4 linked regions of the Homo sapiens genome follow. The protein of the gene in region 1 purifies or fractionates together with the protein of each later gene. This does not show direct contact. Each region holds a gene or a part of one and is shown on either strand. Other genes may lie near its edges. The genes, in order: CDCP1, LEPR, LRFN1 and MAN1A1.

The links.
Region 2: the proteins of CDCP1 (region 1) and LEPR purify together in Homo sapiens (affinity purification with mass spectrometry; 2 studies listed by BioGRID and IntAct, with this or other methods). This does not show direct contact.
Region 3: the proteins of CDCP1 (region 1) and LRFN1 purify together in Homo sapiens (affinity purification with mass spectrometry; 2 studies listed by BioGRID and IntAct, with this or other methods). This does not show direct contact.
Region 4: the proteins of CDCP1 (region 1) and MAN1A1 purify together in Homo sapiens (affinity purification with mass spectrometry; 2 studies listed by BioGRID and IntAct, with this or other methods). This does not show direct contact.

What each region holds. Positions count from the first base shown.
Region 1 is NC_000003.12:45,143,268-45,151,381, forward strand, and holds the start of CDCP1 (CUB domain-containing protein 1 isoform 1 precursor), read right to left. Parts: upstream 3,112-8,114; 5' UTR 3,021-3,111; coding exon 2,939-3,020; intron 1-2,938. UniProt on the Homo sapiens protein: May be involved in cell adhesion and cell matrix association. May play a role in the regulation of anchorage versus migration or proliferation versus differentiation via its phosphorylation.
Region 2 is NC_000001.11:65,423,565-65,430,846, forward strand, and holds part of LEPR (leptin receptor isoform 1 precursor), read left to right. Parts: intron 1-1,738; coding exon of another isoform or gene 1,739-1,814; intron 1,815-4,217; coding exon of another isoform or gene 4,218-4,239; exon of another isoform or gene 4,240-4,445; intron 4,446-6,297; coding exon of another isoform or gene 6,298-6,484; intron 6,485-7,282. Other genes in the region: LEPROT (leptin receptor gene-related protein), read left to right, coding at 1,739-1,814, 6,298-6,484. UniProt on the Homo sapiens protein: Receptor for hormone LEP/leptin. On ligand binding, mediates LEP central and peripheral effects through the activation of different signaling pathways such as JAK2/STAT3 and MAPK cascade/FOS.
Region 3 is NC_000019.10:39,310,840-39,318,121, forward strand, and holds part of LRFN1 (leucine-rich repeat and fibronectin type III domain-containing protein 1 precursor), read right to left. Parts: intron 5,298-7,282; 5' UTR 5,243-5,297; intron 4,535-5,242; 5' UTR 4,498-4,534; coding exon 3,092-4,497; intron 1-3,091. UniProt on the Homo sapiens protein: Promotes neurite outgrowth in hippocampal neurons. Involved in the regulation and maintenance of excitatory synapses. Induces the clustering of excitatory postsynaptic proteins, including DLG4, DLGAP1, GRIA1 and GRIN1.
Region 4 is NC_000006.12:119,178,480-119,185,761, forward strand, and holds part of MAN1A1 (mannosyl-oligosaccharide 1,2-alpha-mannosidase IA), read right to left. Parts: intron 1,949-7,282; coding exon 1,833-1,948; intron 1,467-1,832; coding exon 1,340-1,466; 3' UTR 1-1,339. UniProt on the Homo sapiens protein: Involved in the maturation of Asn-linked oligosaccharides. Progressively trim alpha-1,2-linked mannose residues from Man(9)GlcNAc(2) to produce Man(5)GlcNAc(2).

The sequences.
Region 1 (8,114 bases):
AATGGGATAATCCAGTTGATACCATTTTATAACCTTGGCAACATGAGGATAATGGTTCATCCTTTCATGTCATTTTCTAGTCTGTGCTATGTAATTTCAAGTGCCTTTTCACTGAATAGACCTATTAAAATTGATACAAGCAGCTGGCTATTGTTGGACGTGTTCTATTTTTAATAAGAAAAACTGGAAGCAACTTAAATGTCCAACAACTGGGGACTGGTTAAAGCCATACAATGGGATGATCCCATTTTTGGTTTGTGCACATGAGCGTGCATACATACACATTAAGAAGACTGCATCAAAGTGAATAAGGCAGTTTGCTTATAGATAATTTTTTTCCATTTTGGTTATATTTATTGCCACTTTTTCTACAATAACTATATGCTACTTAAAACATCTTAATTATTAACTTCCTTCCCCCATATTGATAGCCAGGGAGAACACCCAGAAGAGTGTGTGTGTGCACATGCAAGGCGTGCAACCATCATAGATGAAATGGCAGCATCTGAGGTGAGCCCTAGGGCTAACAGGTCTGACTCCAAGTCATGCAAATCTGTGGGGATGTGGGGGAGGAGATGGGGGAGACTCATCAGCGCTACCAGTTACACATTCCAGACAACAGCCAGTAGCTCCTCATTTGAATCGGAAACAGAATGAACACCCACACTCACCCAGGGAGTGTGAATATATCATTTGATCTGTCTGCTCACATTTTTGGCAAGAGACAATGGTGGCAAGATTGGGGTCACTGACCCAGACTCTGGTATCTGAGTGGTTCTTAGAAAGCAACCAAATGGAGGTTTTCAAAAGGCTATGATCCCAATGTAACCAGTGTTTCACTCTTGGAAATGGGGGAGTTGGTGGGGATACCAAAGTCACACAAACACACGACACCAAGACACAAACTTTCCTTTACTTTTCATCTCTGCAGTGACACCAAATTCATTTTTACTCTGCTGAGTCTTTCTTTGTTAAGAGACTTCATGGATTTATAAAACAAATCCACTGTGCCAGGGCTCTGGCTTTCTGTATCCTTTCAGGACAGTCTCCAGGAATTTCTCAAAGGCCTTTGCCACTTAGATCCTCAAGACTACAGGCAACTACTCCAACCACAAAAGCTCTCAGTTCAGCCTGATGTACCCTCAAAGGGCCAGTTCCTGAGACCATAGGGAGGAACTTAAGAAAGCGAAAGGGAAAGTTCCTAGGTTTCTACGTATTTATGTATTGAACCATGAGACAGGGCTCAGCCAGTCAAGGACTTCCTGGAAGGGACTCCATTGGAGTTACTGGACCAAAATGGCAGCCTTCCCAGATCACAGGGAGAAATGAGACCAGGAACAGAGGCTCTCATTATTAGCAATGCCTTGATTAACACCCTGTTCTGACTGGAAGAGTTCCCCACTGTTGTCACAGAAAGCCAAAAACATCTCAGATAATTCCCAGAGTTTCAATACTGTTCCAAGACTGGTAGGCACGCATTTTTCTCAGCACACATATACACATATTTTCACTTCCTTTTTATTCTTAAACTAATTCTTTTTCTTCAAAGGGAATCTTGGAAATTCAGTCCTAAGAAATTATAGTAAATATTCATCAGCCAGGCACAGTGGCTCACATCTGTAATCCCAGCACTTTGGGAGGCCCAGGTGGGAGGATCACTTGAGCTCAGGAGCTCGAGACCAGCCTGGGCAACACAGTGAAACCCTGTCTCTACTTTAATATATATAATTTATATATATATTTATAAATCCATGCCATGGTTTAAATGAAGTTTTAAATTTTCTATCTACTATGCAGCAATATGTCACCTGATGTTGGAGAATGAACCAGGAAGTATTCCTGGAGCTTATATTGATATTTTAGAAGCTCCTGTCTTGTATTTGTAAAGACGGCAGTCACCGGGACGCCCAAATTCAACCTCACTTGCGTCCTTTTATTCCTTTATCTAATTTACACCTGCCAAACACAAATCCACCCTAGATGCAGCAAGGGGAATCAAACCCACATGGCTTCCTGGAGAGCTCTATTTAAAAAACACAAAACCTGTACTAATCTCGCGAAACCTGTACTAGCCTCACATCAAGTTCTTACATGAAGAAACCAGGTTATTTACTACGTTCTAATACATCCAGGGCCCACAGGGCATTTCCTGGCTGGCACAGGTCACTGGGACGTGTTGGTCCCTTCCCCCAACCGAAACAACTCGAAATTCACACATATCCCCGGAACAACAGCCTCCTGCCCTCAAAGTCCACTGCCAAAAAGTGCGAGGGGCGCGGGAATGTCCAGTCTCTGCGGTGGCGCAGATGCCTGGCGGCTTTCTCTGGGACCCCCTAAAAGAAATCCGGGCGCTTTCATTTTTGCACCAACGCTCTTCAACTTTAGGAGAGGGGGAATGCAGCGTGCGGACGGGAAAAAGGGGATCTAGTGGGAAATGCGGACGTGAAAGCACTTTTTTTGCACCTTCTCTCTGGACCAGGCGAGGAGGTAGAGGGCGAGCCTGGAGAGGAAAGATCTCTTCCCACACCCTGCCTGGGTGCTTTCAAGAATCCCGGCAAAGACCCTGGGGCGCACGGCGCGCCACCTTGGACATGTCGCCTGGGATCGGCTACCGGGAGCTCCTTTTCCCGCCTTCTCGGCCAGCACCGGGCTCATCCTCCCGGACCGGGAGGCTCCCCGATCGGGGACACTCTCACGTGCCGAGGGCAAGGTTGACTCCAGGAGGGCAAGGCCCACGCGCCCGACGCGGCGCGCGCAGGAACCGAACAGTCCGGGGGTCCCGGAGCCACCCGCGCATTTTGACTACGCCGTCCCCGCCCTCTCTCCGCACCCTCCGCACCCTCCGCACCCTGCGTCCCTCGGCCGCATCTCCGCCGGGCGTCCGCTGGCTGGCTAGCTCACCACTCCACGCCATCCGCCTCCAAAGCCCGGCACTCACCTGCCCCGCGCGGCAGGCGCGCCGCACCCAGCAGCAGAACCCCTAGCAGTGCGATAGAGACCCCGCAGTTCAGGCCGGCCATGACTCCGGGACGCCTCGGCCTCGGTGGGGAAAACGACGGTGGGGAGCGGCGGCCCCAGGCGCCCAAGCCCGGCGCAGCTGCGCTCCGCCCTGGCTCACTCACCTGCGCGCGGGCGGACCGGCCCGAGCCCCGCCCTGCGCAGCAGGATCGCGAGCTGACCCGGTGCGTCCCTCCTCTCTCTCCTCCTCCTCTTCCTGCCTCAGCGACCGCCTCTCCCTCCCAGGGTGCAGGGCTCCCGGCACCGGGTTGCTGGGTCCCTACTACTCCCCATTGCGGCGTTGGAGCGGACTTGTCCCCACCTTTCCGGGCTTAGTCTTCCTTCCCAAGTCTGAGAATGATGAGGTCTTTTTCTCCAGAGTCGCGAAGGTCGCCCATAGAGGAAGCCAGTCTACCTTCCCTTTTCTGTCGAGGAGACAAAGGCCATTATGCGCCTCGTTTTGGAGAAGAATCCTATTTGTGGGCCACCCAAGCCCTGGATCCTCTGCTACTTGACTTGGGCCAGAGGTCTGTTGGACTTTAAAGCCGGTGGTGGTACAGCTAGTATTTGCAGGACGGTGAGCCTGCAGCCTACTCCACACACATCACCTGCAGTATTTCCAGACACGCAACGTGTCCAAGGTCCCCAGGGTAGCTAGTAAATTAGAGGCAGATGCACCACTTCGTTGAATTGTGAGTAGAGTAGTATGCATCCCTTCACTGAGCTGTGGATGGAGTAGTATGTGCCCTTCTCGAGTTGTATTATAAATGGAGTAGTGTGTGCAGTGTGAGCGTGAAGCATTCAGGTCAAACGTTGGGCTGGAAAATGAATGAAAAATGAATGGCGCTGGACTCCTTTTCCAAATCCTCCCAGCCGCAGGTGTGCCACCTGCCTGTCTTCAGAGGCCCTGTGGGTTCTCCTTCCACCCTGCCGGCCATACACCAAGTCCAGGCCACAGGCAGAGATTGCGGATGGTTCAGGAGTTCTTAGCTAGCAGACCTGGGTTCTGCCAGAATGACTCCCTGGGACTACTTGTGTTCATGGATAGCCAGAAGCTGGGCCAGAGTCACCCGGAGCAACCTGGGAGGCTTGGGACAGGAACCAAAGCATGTGCGACAGCATCAGTTTACAGTCCAGTCCCAACTTCTGCTTAATTCTTGCGGGCACTGAGCCTCTCCAGGCTGCCCCAATCCTCCTTGTGGACAGGGGTGGGAAATCATCTCCTAGGAGCGTCACCCCTTCCTTCTCGATGTCCTTAATCATGAGAATAGAGCTAGCTCTGCCCTCTGGGAGCCCACAGTCCATCGAGGGAGGCAGAACTTGGAACATGACCCTGCCCACACCCCCACCTCTGGGAGGGCCTGTATCGTGAGCTAAACGGGACCTTAGATGTAATCTTCTAGTCCACTTCTGTCCTTGTGCAGAAAAATGGGAAAACTGAGAACTAGAGGGAAGGGAGAGGATGAGAAACGAAGAGAGGCTCTTGGTTCTCCCCACTGAATCGAGGACAAATTCATCAAGAGAAAGAAATCTTGACAAAAATCTAAACAATCTTTAAAAATATTTATGCTGACCAGGAGGGTGAAAGGAGATTTGTCTTTTCTCCTGATTCTAAGCAGGCATATATATCCCAGCATCTTTTCCTAACATCCATGACACCATTGTTTCCCACATACAGTAATACCCACAACAGTACTAGAATGGCAGTGTATTGAATGCAAAATATCAGAAATATTGCTTGACAAGTTAAGCCTAAGGAACAAGTTATTTCCTTACTATTTCGTCTCTCCAAAGTTTGCTTAACTGTCTTTCTTGGGATAGTTGACACCAGCTTTCTGAAAATGGAATGAGAGTCACTAATTCCCAAATATGAAGCATTGGTGGTGGTTCCAGAAAGTAGCAGCAACGAGAAAGAAGAAAATAGGGAGGCACTTCAGCATCCTTTGCGTGACAACCCAACTACATAGTTGAAGTAAAGATGTCCTGACATACTGTCCTGGTCCTCCAAGTGGAGTGTGAACAAAGCATTGCCAAGAATGGACATGTTTTGTCTTTACAAACATGGCTGAATGGAAGGAGTAAATTTTAAAAGGTTATTTCTGAACTGGAAAGCAACGTAGGTAACTATAATCTAGTGCTAGAGAGAAATGAGAGATTGAAAGGTAAATTTTCGGCTGGGTGCAGTAGCTCATGCCTGTAATCCCAGCACTTTGGGAGGACAAGGTGGGTGGATAACTTGAGGTCAGGAGTTGGAGACCAGCCTGGCCAACATGGCAAAACCTCATCTCTACTAAAAACACAAAAATTAGCCGGCTGTGGTGGCGGGCGCCTGTAGTCCCAGCTACCCAGGAGGCTGAGACAGGAGAATTGCTTGAACCTGGGAGGTGGAGGTTGCAGTGAGCTAAGATTGCACCATTCCACTCCAGCCTGGGCGACAGAGTAAAGTTCTCTCTCTAAAAAAAGAAAAAAAAAAAAAAGGAAGGTGAGTCTTAAAACAGACTGTCCCATCTAATTTTGACCTCTTCTGAAACCCTGCAAAGGCTGTAAAACAGGGATTAAAAAAAATTACATAAGCCCACAAAGGTGGGAAGAACAGAGAGAAGACAACAGCAAAATCACCCTGGAAGCTAGACAGCAGCTGGACTAGTGGTAGCTGCCTTAGGAGCCTGGAGATGGCAGAACCCTAAGCCAGTAGTGGGGAAAACTCAGAAATAACACGATTAACACAGAAATCCTCAAAAAAGATCCTCAGGAAATGGCAGCACAAGGTATTCTGCAACTGGAGGGTGAAAGAGGAGTTAAACAAGAAAGGCTAGAAGAAAGCTGTTTGAGAAGTACTGTGGTTAGATCCCAGAACCCATCCATCATTACCCTTGCCTGGGCAACAGTCCCTCGTCCAGCTTCCAGTGTTGTTCTTGAGAAATCCAAAACCATTCTCATTTTTATTATTTTCTTTGAGACCCTTTTCTTGCCTCTAAAGCTGTAGAATCTTCTTTTTGTTCATTGGTTTCTGAAATTTCACCATAATGTGCCTTGATGTGAGTCTGCCTATATTATCGATCTTTAGATCTTGACAAGTTAGAGGGTTGGTAAGCTTAACAACTTTAGTGTTGTCTTCTGGAGAGATTAAAACCTAGGGATGTGGGCTGAGGGATGCCAGGCATAGCTGAAAGCATAGGAAACATTGTAAAAGTAGGTAAATAAAGGGAAGATATGCATTCTGAATGCTGAGATCCCCAGCTGTCTGGCCCCAACCTGCATCCAAGGATGAGACAAAAAGGCTTTGTTATCCATATTGGGGATGGAAAAAGTCTTCTTCTGGGGAGTCTGACCAGCACAGGAGGAAAGACCCAAACATATGGACATTAGACCCTCATAAACAGGCCAACCAGCTTCCTACCATGAGGCTTTCAATTAAGCCCCACCAACTTAGCTTTTTAATATCTCATTTTAATTTTAATTTTTATTTATTTATTTTTTTTGAGATGGAGTCTCGCTCTGTCACCCAGGCTGGAGTGCAATGGCGCGATCTCGGCTCACTGCAACCTCTGCCTCCCGGGTTCAAGCGATTCTCCTGCCTCAGCCTCCCAAGTAGCTGGGACTACAGTTGCACACCACCACGCCTGGCTAAGTTTTGTATTTTTAGTAGAGATGAGGTTTCACCATGTTGGCCAGGCTGGTCTCGAACTCCTGACCTCATGTGATCCACCCACCTCAACCTCCCATAGTGCTGGGATTACAGGCGTGAGCCACTGTGCCTGGCCAATATCTCACTTTTAAACATGAGCAATCAGGATTTCAGGATATCTGAGGAGAGCTTCTAACATATTAGAGTCAAAGCCAACCAAGTAACCAAACCGAGAAAAAAGAAAGAAAGAAAGAAAGAAAGAAAGAAAGAAAGAAGCAACCTGAAAGACTATACAAAGAGAAGAAAATAAAAGGAAGCAAAACAAAAAAATTACTAACTCTCTTAGAGTGATGTAGGCAACTATAATTTGGTGTCAGACAACATTCTCTCTGTGAAGCAGGAACAGCATGTTATAAAAAACAAAACAAGGCCGGGTGTGGTGGCTCACACCTGTAATCCCAGCACTTTGGGAGGCTGAGGCGGGTGGATCACCTAAGGTTGGGAGTTTGAGACCGACCTGACCAACATGGAGAAACCCTGTCTCTACTAAAAATACAAAAAATTAGCCAGGCGTGGTGGTGTGTGCCTGTAATCCCAGCTACTCAGGAGGCTGAGGCAGGAGAACCACTAGAACCCAGTAGGCAGAGGTTGCAGTGAGCCAGGATTGCACCACTGCACTCCAGCCTGGGCAACAAGAGCGAAACTCCATCTCAAAAACAGAACAAAACAAACAAAAAGATTCAGAGAACCACAAAAGAATTATTGGAAATGAAAAAAAGTGATTGTAGATAAAAAAAATAATAATAAATAAATAGAAGAGTTAGAAGTGCTCCCAGAAAGTAAAGCAAAAAGACAAAGAGATAAAAAGTAGGAGGGAAAAGTAAAGAAAATTTGAGGTCCAGTTCAGAAAATCCAACATCTGAAAAATAAGTTTCCTAAAAAGAGAGAGCAGATGAAACAGAGGAGACGACATCATCAATAATATAAGTGAAGAAATTCTCCAGGCCTGAATGACATGAGTTTCCAGATTAAAAGAGTCATGGAGTGCCCTGCACAATGGATAATATAGGCAGACTCACGTCCAGGCACATCATGGTGAAATACCAGAAACCAATAACGAAAAGAAGATTCTAGGCCAGGCGTGGTGGCTCACGCCTATAATCCCAACTATTCCTGAGGCTTAGACACGAGAATCACTTGAACTCTGGAGGTGGAGGTTGCAGTGAGCCGAGATTACACTACTGTACTCCAGCCTGGGTGATGGAAACAAACAAACAACAAAAAAGAAGATTCTGTAGCTTCCAGAGGCAAGAAAAGGGTCTCACAGAAAATAACAAAAATCAAAGTGGTTTTGGATTTCTCAAGAACAACACTGGAATTTGGAAAACAATGAAGCAATACCTTCAAAATTCTGAAGAGAGATAACTTCCAAATTAGAATTCTATACCTAGCCAAACTACCAATTAAACAATAAGGTAGAAAAAGGGCA
Region 2 (7,282 bases), on another chromosome or scaffold:
TGTGGTATTTGCTTTCCATCCACACATGGGCATTTTCCATTAAAGAGTGGAAATGTAAAAAGATATGTTAAAATTGACAGTGTTTCTTTGTCCCTTAACATGTGTATACTTTCAGATGTTTTTTAAAAAGCACTTTGGCACCTTCCTATTAAAGAGTCTCTCTAAATCTTCTCTCAAGTAAAAGGAAGCAATCAAAAATGTTCATTGGCTTAATTAATTAGTTTAATACTAATTATGAGTATTATGGACTTTTTTCAGAAGAAAATTTGGATAAGATAGTCTCCTATGCTTTTGATTTCTACCTTTATCAAAGAACATTGCTAAAATGAGTAGATACCTGAGTCAGTCAGCATTTATTTGGCTACCTCCTTTTGCCAAGCACTTTACATAGATTATCTCATTTAATTCCCATAAGCTCAATAAGGTGGCACCATTATTTCCATTTTACAGGTGAGAAATCAGGTTCAGAGGATTAGCTTCTACCCAAAGTCATAAGACCAGATGGTGGCAGAGTTAAGATTTGACTCATGTTTGTGACTCAGAGCTCAAGATTTTGTAACAACCTTGATACTCTGTTTCTCACTCAGCAGCACAACAAGGGCAAATACGTTCCTACTCCCGCAGAGACTAGTGTCCAATAGATACAGGGAATACATATTTTATTCAGTGCACACTAGTTGGGAATTGTTTCCTACAAAGACATGAAAACAATCTTCAAATACTTGCAGTACTGTGGTTTGGGGAGGCAAAATGATCAAAGGTATATATTACAGGGAGGCAGTTCTGGATATAATTTAAAGAAGGAGGGCTTTCAACATTTAGAAGCTGTTGGAATTAAATGACTTGCCTTGGGAGGTAGTGAGTTTTCCTTCACTGGAGTTATGTGGACCAACTGGCTGCCCTCTGGTGACAAATACAGAGGGAATTCATCCATTGGATAGGGGTTAGGTACTGGAATTACTTGAGACCTTTGTATACTTTATGATTTCAAGGTGGCAGACATGGGTCATTGTCTTAATCAGTTTGGGCTACTATAAGAAATATATTTTAGACTGGGTGGCTTAAACAACAAACATTTAGTTTCCACAGTTCTGAAGACTGGGAAGTCCAAAATTGTGGTGCAGTCAGATCTGGTGTCTGGTGAGAGCCAGCTTCCTGGTTTGCAGGCCTGCTTTCTGCTCTCACATTGGAGAACAGAGGGAGAGAAACACAGAGAGAGTGTGTGCTCTACTTTCTCTCTTCTTATAAGGGCACTCATCCCATCGTGGAGACCCCACCCTCATGACCTCATCTGAACCTAATTATCTCCCAAAGGTCCACCTCCTGATAGCATCTCACGGTGAGAGGGATGGAGCCGGGAAGGTTTCAACATGTGAATTTGAAAGGGACACACATAATGCAGTCTGTAACGGGTCAAATGTAACCTCAATAAAATGAGTAAATTGCTACATTTGCTTGAATTTGGGACCTTTTTTTCTTTCTTTTTTATTTTAGTAAATGTTTTTATTGATAAATGATTCACATACCATAAAATTAACATTCTTAAAGTGTAAGATTTCATGGTTTTTAGTATATTCAGAAGGTTATGCAGCCATCACTACTATCTAATTCCAGAAAATTTACTCATCCGCCAAAGAAACTCTGGACCTATTAGAAGTCACTCCCCATTTCCCCAAACCCTCTAGTGCCTGACAACCTCTACTGTGGGAACTTTAACTTTTGGCTTTATTTTTCACAGCTCTCGTGGCATTATCCTTCAGTGGGGCTATTGGACTGACTTTTCTTATGCTGGGATGTGCCTTAGAGGATTATGGGTAAGTTATCATTTCAAAAAGAACTATTCCTCTTTCTGTGTCTTTGTCACTATTAGTATGGGTGTTAGAGAGTTCGGTCAATTTAGCACCAAGTTCTAACCAGTGAGTTAGTGGAGCCCAGTTTATGAACACAGTCCCTTTGTGGGTCAGGTGTACTTTTGCAGAGGGCTCTGTTAAAAATTGATGTATTCATTCCATAAGCATTTGTTTAACACCTACTCTGGACTAGCTGGGGACACACAAATGAAGAGAGAGTCCTGTCCTCAAAGAGGAGGTAAAGTTCTAGTTGTGAGTGAGAGACAGGCAAACGGTCTAGTCAGTAATCTGGCAGCTGCAGTGGAGATGCCAGCACAGTACGCTGGAGCTCGGATAAAGTGCACCTGAGTTTCAGTGGGACAGTCAGGGAAGGCTGCATGGCAGAGGTTGTATCTGAGCCAAGACTAGGTGGATGAATAAGAGTTTTTCAGGGTGATGAGTCAGGGGAGGACATTCCAGGCAGAGGGAACATTCTACACATTTTTTCATTCAACCATTGTTGGTTGAATGCTTCCCATGTGCCAGCTACTGTTATGGGAACTAGGGATTAAGACATAAGAAAACAAAGGTCCTGCTCTCTCAGAGTTTGTGTTTCAGTGGGGGAGACGGACAGTAAACAACAAAAGTATGCATACTGTCAGAGGTAGAAATGGTACAAAAGATGAAGAGCACAGAAGCTGGGAAGACAGTGGTCAGGGAGGGCCTCTCAGAGGAGGTAAAAAGTGAGAAGAAATGTCAAGAAAATCAGCAAGCAGGCCATACAGATCTCTAGGGAAAAAGCACTTTAGGCACCAGGAAAGCTGAATGCTAAGGCCCGGAGACATGAAAGTGTATATAGCCTTTTCAGGAAACCACACATGGTACATTATGGTACAGCATAAATTGTAGTGGAGTGGCAAAAGAAGGGTTAGTCAAGAGTGTAAAAGTCAGCACTTAGGGCTCTATATGCCTGCCGTGTAGAGGAGGTTCCATTTTATACATCAGACAATAGAACCTGGGAAAATATCTTGAGAATGGGTTTGGAGGAGGGGGTTATGTTAAAATGTCATTCTTGCCATAACGTGAGACTAGATAGGAAAGAGCTGAGACTGCAGTCAGGGAGAATAGTAGGGGACTACTATCATAAATCAAGCAAAATTGAGGGCTGGGGCAGTAGGAATGGAAAGAAAAGGAGAGTGAGTTAGGAAACCAAACCAACCAACAGGTTTTGTTCATCGATGTCAGGATTCAACAAGGAGGGAGAGTTCTTAGATGTCTCCCAGGTGATTGGCTTGAACAACTAGATAGAAGATGATGTGATTAGGCCAGGCACCATGGCTCACGCCTGTAATCCCAGCACTTTGGGAGGCTGAGGCGGGCAGATCACGAGGTCAAGAGATCGAGACCATCCTAGGCAACATGGTGAAACCCCATCTCTACTAAAAATACAAAAAATTAGCTGGGCGTGGTGGCACACGCCTGTATTCCCAGCTACTTAGGAGGCTGAGGCAGGAGAATTGCTTGAACACAGGAGGTGGAGGTTGTAGTGAGCCAAGATCGTGCCACTGCACTCTAGCCTGGCGACAGAGCAAGACTTTGTCTCCAAAAAAAAAAAAAAGATGATGATGATGTGGTTAAGACCTATTGAAGTGAGTTATTATGACAGTGATGAATTCAAATCCATCACCGCAGTCCTGGCCAACTATTACAGAAATTGTTTAAACCCAAGAGGGATCCAGATATAAGCGGTCACTTATATTTGTTTAGAGCCTTCACAGCAATTACTTTATTCTAGCTTTTGGAATGTAATACGGTATTATTATCCTCATTTCTCGCTGGGAAACCAAAGCCCAGGGTAGTTAAAGACTTACCCAGATTGAACAGCAGTAAGTGACAGAGCCCGGCCGTGGTGGCTCATGCCTATAATCCCAGCACTTTGGGAGGCAACGGTAGGAGGATTGCTTGAAGCCAGGAGTTTGAGACCAGTCTGGGCAACAAAGTGAGACCCCATTCTACAAAAAACTAAAATAAGCCAGGCATGGTGCCTGTAGCAGGGTTGGGAGGCTGAGGTGGGAAGATTGGTTGAGCCCAGGGGTTGGAGGCTGCAGTGAGCTGTGATCACACCACTGCAGTCCAGCCTGGGCGACAGAGTGAGACTTTGTCTCTTAAATAAAAAAGTAGAAAAAAAATTAAAATGGCAGACATGGAAATGGAGCTCATGTTCTGACGCCCTTGACCAAACGTTTTTCCACTATTCCACAACCAACTGTAAATCTAGGAGTTTTAATTCTCTGTGATACACTGTCTTTGTAAGGTAAGAAAATGACTCATTACTGCTACTACAAATAAGTTTGTTTTCTATCTTTATTTTAATTTTTTGTTTTTTAGAGATGCCACAACACCCAGCTGATTTTTTTTAGAAGTTTTTGTAGAGACCGAGTCTCTCTGTGTTGCTCAGGCTGGTCTTGAACTCCTGGCCTCAAGTCATCCTCCTGCCTTGGCCTCCCAAAGCTGTATCTTGATAGTGAACCAGGATTATCATCTATATTGGAAGTCAGCAAACTGCCACATATAACCTGCTACCTGTTTTTGTAATAAAGGTTTTATTGAAATACAGCCATGCTCATTTGTTTATGAATTATCTTTGGCTGCTTTTGCATTGCTCTGCCAATTATCTTTGGCAGAGTTGAGTAGTTGAGATAGTCTTTATGGCTTGCAGATCCTCGTTATTTACTCTTTGGCCCTTTATAGAAAAAGTTGGCCCACCCCTGGCCTATGTATTTATTGAATTGTATATATTTAATATTTACATTTTATATATAAACAAGGTTTCTTGTACATTAATATTTCTCTTAGTTGGATATCGGTGGCTTACTATGAATGAAAACATAGAGTCAGATTGTTTTTCACAAAACTGTCACTGTATTCCAGGAAAAATTAAGAGTTCTTGGCTGTGGATATGTAAGGTGACATATCTATTCCAAACCCCTTCCCCTCTCTGTGTCTCCTTTCTCACTGTTGAAAGAAGGGCTTTGAAGTAGAGAATGTCTAAGGGCTACTTCCCACAATATTGTTTGGTGATTCTTGAAACATACTATCATCCCTCTAGTTTAAAATCAGGGGTCCAAATCCACTGTTTCCATCCTGAGTCCTCTTGAAGGACACATTCCCTTCTTGCCTTTTGGTTGCCTAGATCTGTGGCTGGAATGGGAGGCTTTCATTAGTGTGGCTTCATCCCAACTCCTGCTTGTAGGTGCTGTCTGGGCGTATCTGTGTGATTACAGTATTGTGGTGATATGAATTATTGTAGTGTATATATAAAAATGAGCAGAGACTTTTTTTTTCTTAAGAAATGAAGCATAAGAAATGTCTGATGGAGAAAAAAAGATTATTTTTGAAGTACTGATAGAGAAAATACTGTTGGAAACCAGATGGCAATTTTTTTTTTATAATTGCAAAATGTTGAAATTTGGGAGGAAAACAGTTTTGTTTTGTTTTTGCATTACACTATTAATTGTGAGCTCTTATAATGAAGATCAAAGTACATCTAAGCTTTTCACTAGTGAGCATATTTATTTTCATGCCTTCCGTACTTAAAATTTATTTATTATTTTATTCATTTAACAAGTATAAATGGAGTACATCATTCTAGGCCCTGGAGATAAATGGCGTTTGATCAAGACTAATCTATCAGATGGGAATAAGTGTTGTGCAGAAAGTTCAAAGAGGGTGGTATGTTCGAGGGTGACCTGGGGTACATTAGAATAGATGACCAGGGAAAGTTCTGCTTTTAGAAAGGAATCTGTCAGTTTAGATCACATGGTATGAAGGAGTCAGCCAATGAGAAGATCATGGGGAAGGACATTGCAAGCAGGGGGCACAGCTAGCGCAAAGGCCCCAGGATAACAGCTATGAGCTCAAGAGTGTTCAAGGGACAGAAAAAAGGCTGGTGTGGCTACAGATTAAGCAAATGAAGGGAAAAGAGTACAAAATGAATGGAAGAAGTAGATAATACCAGACCATAAAGGCTTTGTAGGCTAGGGCAAGGAATTTAGGGTTTATTCTAAGCTCTTAAAAGGTTTCAAGCATGCGTGCACTCAAAAGATCTTTACCGAACTAGCTTTTGCAAGACACTCTACTATGTTCTATAGGGAAGGCAGAAATGACCAAGTTAAAATTCTGTCTTTAAAGAAATTGTGGCTCAGTGGTACAGAAAACAGTAAAGTTTCTAGGGTATATATTATATAGTGGCTTCTTAACACAATATAAGCTACCTACATAGTAATTTTAAAATTATCACTACTTATCTATCCCTGGTAGAAATCATCTTATGTTCTAATATTCACAATTAATTAATTTTTTGACCTAAACATTTAAAATAGCAATGATTTTGAAATAGTAGTATGTCTTTCATTTAAAATGTAACTGTTACTTTTCTTTTTGGATTTTGCCTGGGTCCAACTGACAGCGTTTACTGGCCCTTATTCGTCCTGATTTTCCACGCCATCTCCCCCATCCCCCATTTCATTGCCAAAAGAGTCACCTATGACTCAGATGCAACCAGTAGTGCCTGTCGGGAACTGGCATATTTCTTCACTACTGGAATTGTTGTTTCTGCCTTTGGATTTCCTGTTATTCTTGCTCGTGTGGCTGTGGTAAGTTTTATTTTCTATTGTTTTGCCCAACCGTTGCTGAGTTTACTTCAGAGGCCTGTGTCTGGGACCTCCATTTCATGCTCATTACTTAGGCTTTATACTCAAGGCCGTGTGTTTTTAGTTTCTCTGTTCCTCTACTTTAGACCTGCCTAACAGTAGTTCGGCCATGCCTTCAGAGTGCTTTCTTTATTTCTCTTACAACTTTTAGCCAGACGATATGATTTCTTACTTTTTCTACTTTAAGCTATTCTCTGGAATTGTTCTTAAATTCCTGCCTCTTAAATCTTACAGTAATCCACAGATACTATGCTAGCAGTACTTTTCTAGTTGCAAGATGAAGATATTTCAAATTCTTCTCCTGCAAATGGGATCATGGACTCAACTCTCAACTCAGTATAATAGGTATATGTTGAGGGACAACTGTGTAGCTTCCAGAAAATGCAGTGAATAAGTTGACATCTTCACTTCCAAGACAAAAACTTTCTTTTTGTCTTCAGAGTACACATTGTAGGTATAATTTATTCAATTATTTGCTATTCACTGTCTTTCCTACTATTTGATTTTATTCCCTCCAATTACGTTCTATTTTAATTTTATGAAACTCTTATTTGAGGCATTGAATATCAGATAAGCGCAAGTCTTGTTCATTCAATAAATATCTTTGCAACAACTGCTACTTGTAAAACACCAGAAATAAGAAATAGGTACTGTCTCTGCTCCTGAGGAACACAGAAACTAGCTTGCTGGGTAAGTATACTATAAGTGTACTAAGTGAGACGGTTGAAGCATGATCAGAAT
Region 3 (7,282 bases), on another chromosome or scaffold:
GTTCTCCCACTACCAAGAGCCACCCTCCCACCAAAAGACTTCCAATCAGGGCCCCGCCCCTTCATAAAGGTCCACCCACTTCTCCAACTCCACTCTACCCACCCCTGACTGCCATTTCAAAGACCACTGCCACCCACCCCAGCCACCCTCGGCTGCCCTGGCTTTAAGCCTTCCTCCTCCTCTCTTCATCTCTCCTCTCCAGAGCCCTGGATTCCACTTGCTCCTTCCCCTAAATAGCCAGTTGCTAGGGGCTTCCCCCACCCCTTTTCAAGGACAGAGGCTGGCTCCTTAAGAAAGCTTCAGCCCAAGTGTCTCTAATTGGCTGCAGAATTAAAGCAAGCAGCTAAGCAGGCTTCTGGTTGGCTGCCACCTCCGCCCATGACAGCGTGAGGAAGTTAACCCCTGCGGCACCATAGCATAGGAATCTGCAATGGGGGTTGGAGAACTGGAACTGGGGCCCTACAGGGAAGAGAAGAGTCCCAGGGTCTGTTGCCCAGCTGGGGACAGGGGGCCATCAACATCTGCATCCATGCAGGGTCTGGGGGCTTGTGAACCTCCCCCACCCCACCATGTGGTGGCCATGGCTCAGAGCAAAGGAAAGAGAGGGACAGAGAAGTGGAGAGTCACAGAAGCTCAGAATTATTTACAGAAATATATTATCCATCTCCCTTCCAAGCAGTGGGTGCCCAACAAATGTGTGTCAGTGTATAAAGGACAGCTTTGCTACTTTCTGTGTGACCTTGGGCAAGTGACATCCCCCACTGAACCTCAGTTTTTCTGTCTTTGAAATGGAGAGGGGGTCATCACGCCTTCATAGCGGAGCTGGGAAGATCAAGCTTGGAAGTTCGTTGTGAAGGTTTGTGTTTTGTTCATTTGTTTGTCCTCATGTTTGTAAGGCTGGGCCAGGATCTAACCTATCTCAGTAGGCCCAGGGCCCAACACAAGATGGGCACACAGTAGGCATCTACTCAGTGTTTGGGACCAGAATCAAAAAGAGAGGGAAATGAGGAAGACAGAGACAAAAGAAAAGGGAGGCTTTTTTTTTTTTTTTTTTTTTTTCCAGAGGGAGTCTCGCTCTGTCACCCAATGGCGCAATCTCCGCTCACTGCAACCTCCGCCTCCCAGGTTCAAGCGATTCTCCTGCCTCAGCCTCCTGAGTAGCTGGGATTACAGGCACGTGCCACCACATCTGCCTAATTTTTGTATTTTCCGTAGAGACAGGGTTTCACCATGTTGGCCAGGCTGGTCTTGAACTCCTGACCTCAAGTGATCCGCCCGCCTCAGCCTCCCAAAATGCTGGGATTATAGGCATGAGCCATCGCGCCCGGCCAAGAGGCATTTTTTTCATTCAACCAACACTGGGAAAGCACCTACTATGTGCCACACCTATGGCCAAGAAAACACTGGAAAGGCAGAGATGGAGGCCAAGAGGCAGGTTTCTCGGTGAAGATCTGACAGCCAGGAGCTGGGGCTCTCCACAGGTAGGGAAACAGCTCCAGCCCCGCTGGCATCTCCAGGTGAAGCCAAGCAGATGACTGAAGCATTTAACTGGTGCTCTACAATGTGCATGAGGGAGGCAGAGCTAGAAGGAGAGACATCCATGTGGCAAACTACCATTTATCAAGTGCCTACTGTGTGACAATTCTGTGGCAGAGAGCCATACTAAAAAACTACCAAGATGGGCCAGGTGCAGCGGCTCACACCTGTAATCCCAGCACTTTGGGAGGCCAAGGCAGGAGGATCACTTCAGCCCAGGAGTTCAAGACCTGTCTGGGCAATATAGCAAGACCTCATCTCTACTAAAAATTTTTTTAAATTAGCCCAGTGTGGTGGTGCACACCTATAGTCCCAGCTACTCTCAGGAGGTAGGAGGATTGCTTGGAGCCCAAAAGTTTGAGGCTGCAGTGAGCTATGATCATACCACTGCACTCCAGCCTGGGGTGACAGAGCAAGACCCTGCCAAAAAAAAAAAAGAAAAAGAAAAAAAAAAACTACTGAGATGGAGAGACATGGCAAGGCCAGGACTGCAACTCATAGTGTACTATGGACCACGACCTACTGGGCTATAAGCTCCCTGAGGACAGGGTCTGGGTGGTTTCCCTGTGTCCCCAGCACCCAGCTCAGGAGTTTGCACAAAGCAGGGGCTCTGTGCCTAACGAGGGCAGAGAAGGTAGAGACAGACAGAGAGGTGAAAGGAGAAATAAGGAGGCGATGGGAGAAAATAACTCTTTTTTTAAAATGTCTGTTGACACCGTATGGTCTGTCCCCACCAGGGCAATGGCTTCAAACCCAAGTGAGGGTGGAAATAACATATTTTTCTCATACGTTTTGTTTTCTGTTTCTGTAATGTACCCAATGTGTTGGTTCAGTAGTACTGGTATATAATTTATAAATATAAATGTCGCTGTAGGCTAGGCACGGTGGCTCACACCTGTAATCCCAGCAATTTAGGAGGCCAAGGCAGGCGGATCACTTGAGGTCAGGAGTTCAAGACCAGCCTGCCCAACATGGTAAAATCCTGTCTCTACTAAAAATACAAAACTTAGCTGGGTGTGTTGGTGGGTATCTGTAATCCCAGCTACTTGGGAGGCTGAGGGACGAGATTCGCTTGAACCCGGGAGGCGGAGGGTTTCAGTGAGCTGAGTTCGTGCCACTGCACTCCAGCCTGGGCAATAGAGTAAGGCTCAGTCTCAAAACAAACAAATAAATAAATGTCACTGTAAATGTGTGTGTGTGTTTCATGCTCCAAAATGTTTAACTGAAGAGGTGCACAATCAGATTGTTGTGGGGAGCAGTGATATCGACCATGAGCCCCATGAGGGCAGGGTTCATGCTGAGCTCAGTCACTGTTAGGACTCCAGTGCCCAGCCCTGGTCGGGTTCATGTAGGTGCTCAGCGAATATTTTCTATAAGCACGAAAAACAGAGACAGTGAGAAATAGAGAGAGGAGACAGGGCAAAGGAGGGCGGGAACAGCTCTCACAGCCATCTAGAACCCTGGCTGAGCAAGAAGGCCAAGGGAATGGGCAGGTGGGAGGGAGGGTCCCCCTGGGCTTGGGAGGAGGCCCTGGGACTGCAGCACCCGCACCCACCTGTAGACGAGGGAGTCATCAACGGAACTGTTGTACTGAACCTGGTACATGCGTATTCCGGGCACAGGCCTCTGGGCTGGCCAGCGGATGAGCACGGAGTTCGAGGTGAGCTCGGCTGCCACGAGCCGACGCTCAGCCGCAGAATCGTTGGCACCTGGTCTGCCCGGCGTGGCGATGTCAGAGGAGCCGGGCTCGGTGAGAGGCGGCGGGGCAGCCGGCGGGGGTGCCATCAGAGGCAGAGGTACCACGCACACCTCCACGGGCGCCGTCGCTTCCCCAGCAGCATTGGAGGCGATACAAGTGAAGGTGCCACTGTCCCTCAAGGTGGTGATGGTCACATCCAGCGTCCCGTCCCCCCGGACCCGGGTCCGGCTGGAGTTCCCCAGCAGCCGCCCATCAGGTGCCACCCAGTGCACCACCGGCTCGGGGTCACCCACCGCTCGGCAGCGCAGGCTCACCGCCTGGCCTTCCACCACCAGGGCCCGGCCCCCCGCCTGCCGTGTGATCAGCGGGGGCTCACACAGGAACTCCTCCTCGGGGATGGACCAGAAGTAGCGGTCGGTGAGGTGTTCGGGCGTGGCGCAGGTCTCTAAGTCGTCCTCGCGGGTCAGCCGCCGCAGCCAGAGCAGCTCGCAGTTGCAGTGCAGGGGGTTGCCGCCGAAGCTGACGGTCAGCGGGGTGGGCGGCTTGGGCCCGGTGCCCTGCGACCTCAGGAAGAGCCCGTCGGGCGGGAGTTTATGCAGGCGGTTGGAGGTCATGTCCAGACGGACCAGCTTGTGAAGCTGCACGAAGGTCCCCTCCGCGATGTGGTCGATGAGGTTGTGGTCCAGCGTGAGGGTGTTTAGGTTCACCATCTGGCCCACCGCCTCCCACGGCAGGGCCTCCAGGTTGTTGTAGGACAGATCCAGGTCCTCCACGGTGGACAGGAAGGCGTCAAAGGCCGCCGACTCCACCCGGCGGATCTGGTTGTTTCCAAGGATCAGGTGGCGGAGGTTGCCCAGGCCGCGGAGCTGGTCGCCGCGCACCTCCGCCAGGCGGTTGCTGTCCAGGTGCAGGGCCCGGAGGGCACGCAGGTCGGCGAAGGCGCCAGCTGCCACCTGGCCGATGGTGTTCCGGGAGAGAGTGAGGTGCACCAGGCTGGTCATGTTGGCGAAGTCTCGGCGGCGCACGGCGGCGATGAAGTTGTCGGTGAGCCGCAGCTCCACCACGCGCCGGTCGATGGCGGGCGGCACAAAGAGCAAGCCGGTCTTGGCGCACAGCATTGTCAGTGTGGGCGCCACGTTCTGGCAGATGCAGCGGCCGGGGCAGGGCTGGCCACGAGATGCCCCCGCCCAGAGCAGCAGCAGAAAGGGCAGGGCAGCGGGCGGCGGCGAGAGGAGGGCCGAGGAGAAGGGTCCTGGAGCCATGGTGCAGTGGGAAGGCAGGAGGGGTGGGAGGTGAGACCTGCCGGGGAAGGAGCCGGTTACCCAGGCGTGGGACTTGGCCGCCATGGGATGTCCTGCTACGAGTCAGGCCTGGATCCCTCCCCTACCGCCTACAGCTGGGTTCCATAGGATGGTGAGAGGAAGCCACTATCAGCTATTAACAACAGATTACAACACTTCCATGCTGGGCACAGTGGCTCACGCCTGTAATCCCAGCACTTTGGGAGGCCGAGGCAGGCGGATCACCTGAGGTCAGGAGTTCAAGACCAGCCTGGCCAACATGGTGAAACCCCGTCTCTACTAAAAATACAAAAATTAGCTGGGCATGGTGGTGGGCGCCTGTAATCCCAGCTACTTGGGAGGCTGAAGCACGAGAATCGCTTGAACCAGGGAGGTGGAGGTTGCAGTGAGCCGAGATCACACCATTGCAATCCAGTCTGGGCGACAGAGCAAGACTCCATCTTAAAACATAAATAAAAATAAAAATATCTCTATACTGGTTGATAGAATACCCCTGTCCCTACTTGCGTGTCCCACCCTCACCTCTGCCCCTCCTGTAGTAGCTCCCAAACCTCTCATGATCTCCCAACCAGAGGGGTGACACCTGGCCCAACCTGGGCCCTCCAGTACCCACTAAATTGTCTAAAAAATCACTGTTAACTATGGTTTAAGGCCCTGGCTATCCAAGCCATACTCCCTAGCTCCAAATCCCAGCTCTGATACTTACTAGCTGTGTGACCTCCAGCAAGTATCTGAACCTCTCTGATTCTCGGTTTCTTCATCTGTAAAAGGGAGATAGAAACAGGCCTTACTTCTGTGAGGATTAAATGTATTGATGAACATAGCATACTTAGAATAGTGCCAGGCATATAAAATGTGCTTATTACATGTTAGCAATCATCATCATGATCATCAAGTGCTTAATATGTACCAGGCATAGAACAGTGCCCTATTATTGAGAGTAAGTACTTTGAAATCAAACAGACTCAGGTTCAAATCCTGATTCCCCTTTTGCTAGCTCTGTGACCCCCAAGCCAATGATTTCCCCTAGCTAGGCTGTAATTTCTTAATCTGTAAATTGGGATGATAATTGTACCATCTTCATTCATGTACCACCGACCATGCCTGGCATACAGTAAGTACTCAATAAATGTTAAGGGTTTCCCCCCTCCCGCCTCTGGCATTGGCAGGGAGAGTGTCAAAGTGGGAGGGACTGAGGAAAACACATCAGAGTCTTCCAGTTCAGCCTCAGGAAGGCCTTCTCTGAGGTCTGGTTTCATCCTGGGCTCAGTTGAGCTCCCAAGCAAGGCAGACTTTCATGCTCACATCTTTGGGTACACACAACACACACACACACACTCACACACTCACACACTCACGCTATGTCTCTGCTCCAGGCAAAACCTTCCGGCAGGGATTCCCCCTGCGGCGGCTGCAGCCCACGACATGTCAGTTCCCATCACAACACAGGGTGGGCGGGGGGTGAAGAGGAAAGGATGGGAAGGGGGCGTCCCTAAAACTGTTTTCACCCCACCCTGCCCTGTACCCTAGCCCCTGCTGGCCTACCTCCCAGGAATCTGTGTTTGGGGCTACGGCCTTAGGTGGCTTTGATCTTCCTGCCAGTGGGGAGGGGGCCTGGGACAGAGACCAGGAAAGTCAGAGACAGAGGTGAAGAGAGACAAGGAGAGACCAGGGGGAGGGAGAAGTGGACTGGCAAAGAGAGAGAGACAGATTGGGAGAGAAACAGAGAGACAAAAAGATGAGTCTGAAAGGAAGGTGAACAGACAGAAAACTGAGAGTGAAGAATGAGACACAGAAAAGAGAGAGACACAGAAAAAAGACACAGAGATGGAGAGAAAAATAGAGACAGTATTAGAGAGAAAAAGACAGAGGAGGAAAGAGACAGAGAGTAAGAGAGACAATGACCGGGCTGAAGGCGGAAAAAGAGGCCGGATCGGGGTGTCCTACCATCTCTGAGTTCACCCCAAATCTGTCCTTCACTCCCTCTAGATCACTACTCTACAATGTACTGGAAACCCTGGCCTAGAAAGGGGGACTCCAGAATTAGGAGCCTGAGTCTGCCCCTGCTTGGCTGTGGGGTCTTCAGGGCTCAGAATCCCAGTCTATGAAACAGAAGTCCAGAGCCTCGCCTCCGACAGCTGGGGTAGGACTCAAATGGAGGGAATAATAATAGCAATGGAAATAGCTAACATTTATGGAGAGTGGTGCAGCACTGCAGGACAGAATCCGCCCTACTGCCTGGGTTCAGACCTCACCTCCCCACTGTGTGACTTTAATCAAGTGACTTCCCCTTTCTGTGCCTCGGTGTGCTCATCTGTCAAATGGGAATAATAATGGCACCCACCTCATAAGGTTGCTATGAGGATTTAATGAGATAATATTTTATGACATGCTTAGAATAGTTCCTGACAAAGTAAACACTATATACATGTGAGCTGCTGCTATTATCATTATTATTATTACTATTATTATTACTAATTTATTATTTTCTCCAGCTTTCTCAGCCACCAGGAGGTCAGGCTATCGGGAGATCTTCCCACACCCATGCACACGCACATACAAAATGGGCAAACATATTCACTCAACCCTCTAAATGCAGGGGTCATTTCATATCTTGACATATTCTTGTATCCTTTACTGATATCATGAGGAAACCTTGCTTTCCCAAACACCTTAACCATCCTGAGAATGAATGTCTCTTGGCCTGAAACCCCCCACCTGCTCCCCAGAGCCACCTGGCCACCAC
Region 4 (7,282 bases), on another chromosome or scaffold:
GTATATATAGTGGGCCAATGTAAGCAAACACAAGGTATCACACCAAATCTATTCTTGAGAAAACCATTCCTATTTCAAACTTAATGTTTAAAAGAATCATATATTGATTTTGATTTACTCCAGGACTGTGGGGGATGGGGAGTGGCCATTTCTTTATATTTCTTCTAAGTTGTGATCTCTGTGTTGACTATAACCATACTAAATATGCTATATTCTTATTTGGCCTAAAATTTATTAGATTTTCCTTGATTGATCACGAATAAGTAAAATTGGCAAAGCTTCTTTCAGAGTCAAATCCTGCTTTCACAAACTGAAAGGAAATAATTTACTACATCTGAGATAGAGCCTTTTTCAAATCTGAGAAATCTGAACCAAATAGAATGCTTTATTTTCCAAAGAAAAAAATCAAGATGAAATACAAACAAGTGAACTAAAAGCCATATGAAATACCCTCTCTTTAGACAGACCCAATTTCTTCATATATTCAGTTAAACCCAAAAGCTAATCCATTAAGTTGTACTATTTTCTTCAGATAAATGTAATTCAGTGATAGCAGAGCTCTGCAAAATTTGAAAGCTCACCTCTCTGTGTAGTGGGGAATGGAAGAAATTAACTAGTATATAATCCAGAAATGACACAGGGCATTTAAAGTAAAATTAAAGGACACATTTACAAAATAGAAAACACTAATATAATTAACCAACAAAAATATACTGCAGTTCCGATGAAATGAGGTCAACATGACATGATCCTTTTGGAATGACTTTCTAATTTGAATTACAATGTGAGTGAAGTATTTTAGAAGACATTCTATCAAATAATGATAGACCTGCATAAGGAGGCTGTCACAGAAGATCTGTCTCTGGTGGACAGACAAACCAGATTAACATGAAATTGTAAAGGAAAAAGCTTTTTTATACTTATTATTATGGCTTTTTGCAACATGGCAAAACATTACAGCTTAAAGCAGACATCATCTCCTCTTAGAGGAGGAAAAAGTTTTGCAGTCAAATCAAATTATAATTAAGAGGTCATCGCTATACAATTCTATTCAGTTTAACAAAAACGATATTACACCTTCATGAAATCCAGAGATAATAGGTTACTTAAAAACATAAACAAAAAACTGGTGGATACACTGGCTGAATTAATAAAGGATATGATAAGGAATTTAGGTCCACCTATACCTATGATAATAAACATAAAAGACTGCAAAACAATTTAAGAACTTAATCACAGACCTACTAATCAAAGTTCATCATGTGCCTGATTACCAGAAAAGGAATTATTAAGGTATACAGTGAAGGGAATGGAGCAGAATAAAATATAAAATGTCTTTTTATTCCTCTCTGATTTCAACTTCCTTTTTATCTTTAGGGAGGATAGGGAGAAGATGTGCCTCGCTATTGAAGATCCAATGCTCCAGTGGAAGAAGATCGTCGTCAGAAAATATTAGGTACAAATATCTGGTGAGAGAAACATAAGTATATGAGGCCCAAGACACTAGGCAGGCAGTGAAACCACAAACACACAGCAAAAACCACATCAATGTCTGCATTCATCTTACCAAGAAACATGGACAAGAGTCAAATATATCAAAACCCTGAGGGGTTATACTCATTAACATGGGGTAAAGCAGCTACTCAGTGCTTTGGTGTTAGCAGTACCAAGTCACTGAACCTAGTTATTGAGAATATACCTGCAATTATAGCCATGCCTGATATTCTGAATCAGGCATACTTGATATTACTTGAATGTGTTCATGATAAAGACATCTACAAAGATCTGTTCAGGTACCTTAGCCACATGGTTTTAGAATAATTTTCACCTACTTCAATGTCTCTGCCAGGAAGAAACTCTGCTGCACATCATCATAACTCTCATGAAGAAGGTAAACATCCCTTAGGCCTGAATAGCCTCCATTCACTCTGCAATGGTTTTCCAAGGCCTAAATTATAGAGGAGGAAAAAAAAAAGTCACATTTCAGTAAACTGATTGTCACTAATTTTTATTATTAGATTGTCAAGTTCAGATAAAACATTTTTTTTTTTTGAGACAGGGCCTCACTCTGTTGCCTGGGCGGAGTACAGTGGCACCATCATGGGTCACTGCAGCTTCTACCTCTTGGGCTCAGGTGATTCTCCTGCCTCAGCCTCCCAAGTAGCTGGGACCACAGGCATTCGCCACCATGCCTGGCTAATTTTTTGTATTTTTTGTAGAGATAGGGTTTTGCCATGTTGCCCATGGTTGTCTCAAACTCCTGGGCTCAAGCGATCTGCTTGCCTCGGCCTCCCAAAGAGTTGGGATTACAGCCATGAGCCACTGTGCCCAGTCAAAATTTATTTTTTACAAATTGGATTCAAATTAAATGAAAGTTTGTTATAGAGTTTTAGGTAAAAAAAAATTAAAACCATAAACTAAATGTAAATTAAAAATGAAGTCATAGAACATATGGACCACATATCTTACCTAATTTGAAACACTTCTGCCTTTAGTTTTGGAAAAATTTTTCACTGATTTTTACCAATTCCCCCTATGGTCTGGAGCAGGGTTTAGCAAAGTATGAACTATAGGCTAAATCCAGTCCACTGTTTATTTTTGTAAATAAACTTTTATTAAACCACAGCCATGTTGTTTAAATATTGTCTGTGGCTGTTTTTGTACTACAATGACAGAGCTAAGTAGATGCAAAAGAGACTAGCTGGCTGTCCCCCAAGCCTGATATTGTCTGGCCCTTAACAGAAAGAGTTTGCTGACCCCTAGTTTGGAGAGACTGCTAATGTCAACTGGGATCATAAACCACTGGTTGAGAAACCGTACTGGAACAAAATCAGCTGCTTCTATAATCAGAGTATCTGAGTTTCTGAAAATTGATTGTAGGGTACTCATCAGTGATATTGGTAACAGAGCTAAAAGAAGAAAATGAAAGACAGTGAGAGACATGTGGCTGGGATCTATTCCTAAAATACATGTTTTTTTTTTTTTTCAGTCTAGTATGGAAGAAGATGGGATGACTCCACTGACAACTCTCTAGAGAGAAATGATCCTACATTTCTGTAGTTGTCTGAATTTAATGAATATTTGGAAAACAGATGGGTTGGGCAGTGTGAGGATGAACATTTAGGTAACAACCTAAACCAACCTGCCTTCCACTTTGTTGGTTACCACTAAGATGGCTGCTGTTTGTGTTTTCTTTTTCCCTTTCAGAGCCCACTTTCTTTCTTTTGTTTGTTTCTATTTTTCTTTAACCTTTTTCCAGCTTTACCGATGTATGACAAATACAAATAGTATATACTGGAAGGTGTACAGTGTGATGTTTTGATATACACTACTTCTGTGGATATACACCATCTTCTGTGGTGGATATACATCATCTTCTGATGTGGATACACATCATCTTCTGTGGATATACACCAAGAATTAGGATTGCTGGATCATATGGTAGCTCTATTTTTAATTTTTTGAGAAACCTCCATACTGTTTTCCATAATGGCTATATCAATTTTCATTGCCACCAACAGTGTACAAAGGTTCCCTTTATTCTGCATCCTCACTAAGACTGATTACCTCTTGAATTTTTGATAATAGCCATTTAAAAAGGTATGAGGTGATATCTCACTGTGGTTCTAATCTGCATTTCCCTGATGATTTGTGATGTTGAGCATCTTTTCACTACTGGCCATCTGTACGTCTTCTTTGGAAAAATGTCTCTTCAGGTCCTTTGCCTATTTTGAAATCAGGTTGTTTTTCTGCTACTGAATTGTAAGTTCCTTATATATTTTGGATATTAACCCCTTATCAGATATATGGTTTGCACACATTTTTGTTGTGTTTTTAGTTGATTGTTTCCTTTGCTGTAAGGAAACTTTTTAGTTTGATGTAGTTTCATGTGTTTATGTTTGCTTTTGTTGCCTGTGTTTTTGGGTCGAATCCAAAAAATCATTGCCAAGCTCAATGTCAAGGAGCTTTTCCCCTGTTGTTTTCTCCTAGGAGTTTTATGGTTTCAGGTCTTACATTTAAGTCTTTAATTCATTTTGAGTTGTTTTTTTTTTTGTGCTGTTTATATTTTGAAATTACATTTGTTGCTCTGCTAGTTACCAGGCATATTCATCTCTAGGAAAGTTATTTTCTGCCATCACATCCTACTAATCCTATTAATTATATGGTCAAATAAAAATTTCCATCGTACAAAAATTGCCATCTGCAATCTGGTTCTCATTTATTGACTGTAGACAAAAATAATAAAGTTTAAGACTAAAACCCTAATATATTTTATAGTGAAATAAAGAAAATGTAAACAAGATATACTTACTCTTAGTTTCTCATGTCATTTTTCACTTACGTTTCAGTTTTCCCCTGTGGATCATAATTCTGTCCCTCTTTTTTTTTTACATATATAATTGTACCCCATTTTTCTCCCATTTAATCCAACTACCAAGAAGATGGAAAGCATAGACTTTGCCTTATCAGTTGAGAAAAACCTTCTCTGGCTAGAAAGGATTTTGGAGGAAAATAAGGCTCTAAGAATGTAGAGCCCAGAAAAGAGGCGAGGGAAAGTAAGTACCAGCCACGGATTCTCATGAGCAGAGATGTTGCACTGAGAGCTCAGCTCCCATCTGCAGATACTGATAATGAGGTTATTGATTTTTCACATCAGGGCTGGAGGACAGAAGGGAGAGAGCAGAGAGACTATGAGGAGAAGCATTTAATTACCTGGTTAAAGAAATTCTGGCCAGCAGGCCACATGAATAAAGAAAATAAAGAAAATGCCTCATGATTTCATACTTTTAAAAAGCCCCGAAGAAAATAAGACCGATCAACTTAAAAACAGATGCTTCGATTAAATTCTAAGTTCCAGACAGTGCGTCAAATGGAGGATGAGCATGAAGAAAGAAACTTTCAAGTCCTATTATTTTTTCTTTCCTCCTTTTTTTTTGACAAAGAGTCAAATACCAGATATGTAGAATAAGCCAAAAATTATTGGTTAAAAAAAGGAAAAAAATCAGAATTTAGAAAAAATGGGCAAGGTTTTTATGGGAAACCCTATTTCCGGATATTTCTTTAAACAGATTTTAATCCCAAAACCTTTTCTTAGTTGTTCCCTTGAGGTTTTTTGGTAATGAGCTAATGAGAGGGCCAGCCATGATAAACAGCCACTCCTCCTCTCCATGGAAACTGCTCTAAGCTCCTTCTTTTGTTAGAGGAGTTGCTTTTGGGGTGGACAATGCCTAATCACCTTTCTTTCTAGTTCACCCTCTCATTCTTGTTCCCCACAAGTCCTCTTGGGGTAAGCTATAGTATTCAAGAACACAGCCAAAAATTTTGAGTAGTGGGCCAACTTCCAGCTTGAGACCCCCTTATCAGTGGCCCCAGAGGTTCCATGTCCCAGGCAGCATCTTCCTTCTCAACATGGGGTTGTACGTGAGAATAAAACAAAATGAAGAAATGCTTAGACAATAACAAGGGCTTCAGAGGTTTAGAGAGGCCCAGTCACTTTGCTTTTGAAGTTTTTGGTAAATTAAAAAAAAAAAATTTTTTTTTAAAGGAAAAGCACCCAAGAACTCCCCCTCACCCCTTACGCAAAAGTCTAGATTTTAAGACTTTAGGAACGTGAAGCTGGGGACAAATAGCTTTCCTGGGCCCTTACAACAGCCCTGATTCTATCAGCATCTCAACAGTGGAAGCTGTCATGTGTTTGTATGACTAAGTCTAACCAGATCATCATTGTACTATAATCTGTTCTTGGGATTCTCAGCCTCTAGGCATGGGGACCACCTTGGTTTTGAGTAAATGCTTCTATTATTAGTGATCCTATGTGACTGGGATGTGCAAATAGCAGAGAACAGGATATGAGAATGTTTATAATGATTGGAGCTCTAAACAAAGGATGAAGGGTAGGTAAGAAAATAGCAAGCATCATGAGTTAAATCCTAAGTCAGAGGACAGAAGAGTATTCTCTTGCCTACCAGATATATAAATGGCTGATCCGTGGAGTAAGGCTGTCTGCTTGAGTGTCGTCTGAACTCAAGGATAGAACACAGAGAATCAGGCACCTTGAACAAATCAAAGAGGGTTTGGAAACAGGATGAAGCCTGAGGAGGCAGGAGTAGGAAGGAGGAAAAGAAGTCACTTCCTGAGAGTCGAAATGTCTGAGTGGAAAAGGTTAGGTTTAGAAGAGCAAAGAAAATGTCTGTGCAAAAAAACAAAACCAAAAAACCTGAAACTACCAAAAAAAAACCCCCTAAAGCCAAAAAAAAATCCCAAATCCCTAGGTAAGGCTTTACCCTTTACCATAGATCAGCTGAGACATTATATAATCTATGTGAATATATACATACAATATTCTGATAAAGCTCATGCTGTAAGTTATCAGATGTTTAAATGGAAGGAATTTGTCAGTTTCTCATGATTTTTTTTTTTAAAATTTTCAAGAGAGTCTCGCTCTGTTGCTCAGGCTGGCGTGCAGCGGTGTGATCTTAGCTCAAAATAACCTTGAACTCCTGGGCTCAAGTGATCCTCCCTCTTCAGCCTCTTGAGTAGCTAGGGACTATAGGAGTGTGCCAGCATGACGGGCTAATTTTTAAATTTTGTAAAGACAGGGTGATGACTTGTTGCCCAGGCTGATCTCAAACTCCTATCCTTGAGCCATCCTCCCACCTCGGCCTCCCAACATGCTGGGATTACAGGCTTGAGCCACCACGCCTGGCTTTCATGACATTTTTGAGAAAAAGCAAAAGAAATTATCAGTTAAATATTATTTCTGTCAGGCAGACTCACAAGTGCTTGAACACCTGTGATTAATGGAGTGCTGTTAACCCACAAAAGAACTCTCTAGTGTTGTACTGCTGGATTATATACCTTTTCACATCTTATTTGACATTATTATTAGAAATTTAATTAAGACACAGAAAGCAGGTTTCTCAAGTGTATCAGTGAAAGAAGGCTGGGAAGGGAGTGCTTTGTTAGAAGATAGGAAGACGGCTTACAAATACTTTACAAACTGAAAGTATGGGTGAAAAAGCACAGTGCAAAGGAGATGTGACTCAACGGTAGCAAATGGAGAAGCTAACACTGACCATAATTTCAATATAAGCCAGTTTTTCTTTATTTTTTTGGAGTTGGAGTCTTGCTCTGTCCCTCAGGTTCGAGTGCAGTGGCGTGATCTCGGCTCATTGCAAGCTCCGCCTCCTGGGTTCATGCCATTCTCCTGCCTCAGCCTCCTGAGTAGCTGGGACTACAGGCGCCCGCCACCACGCCTGGTTAATTTTTTTTTGTACTTTTA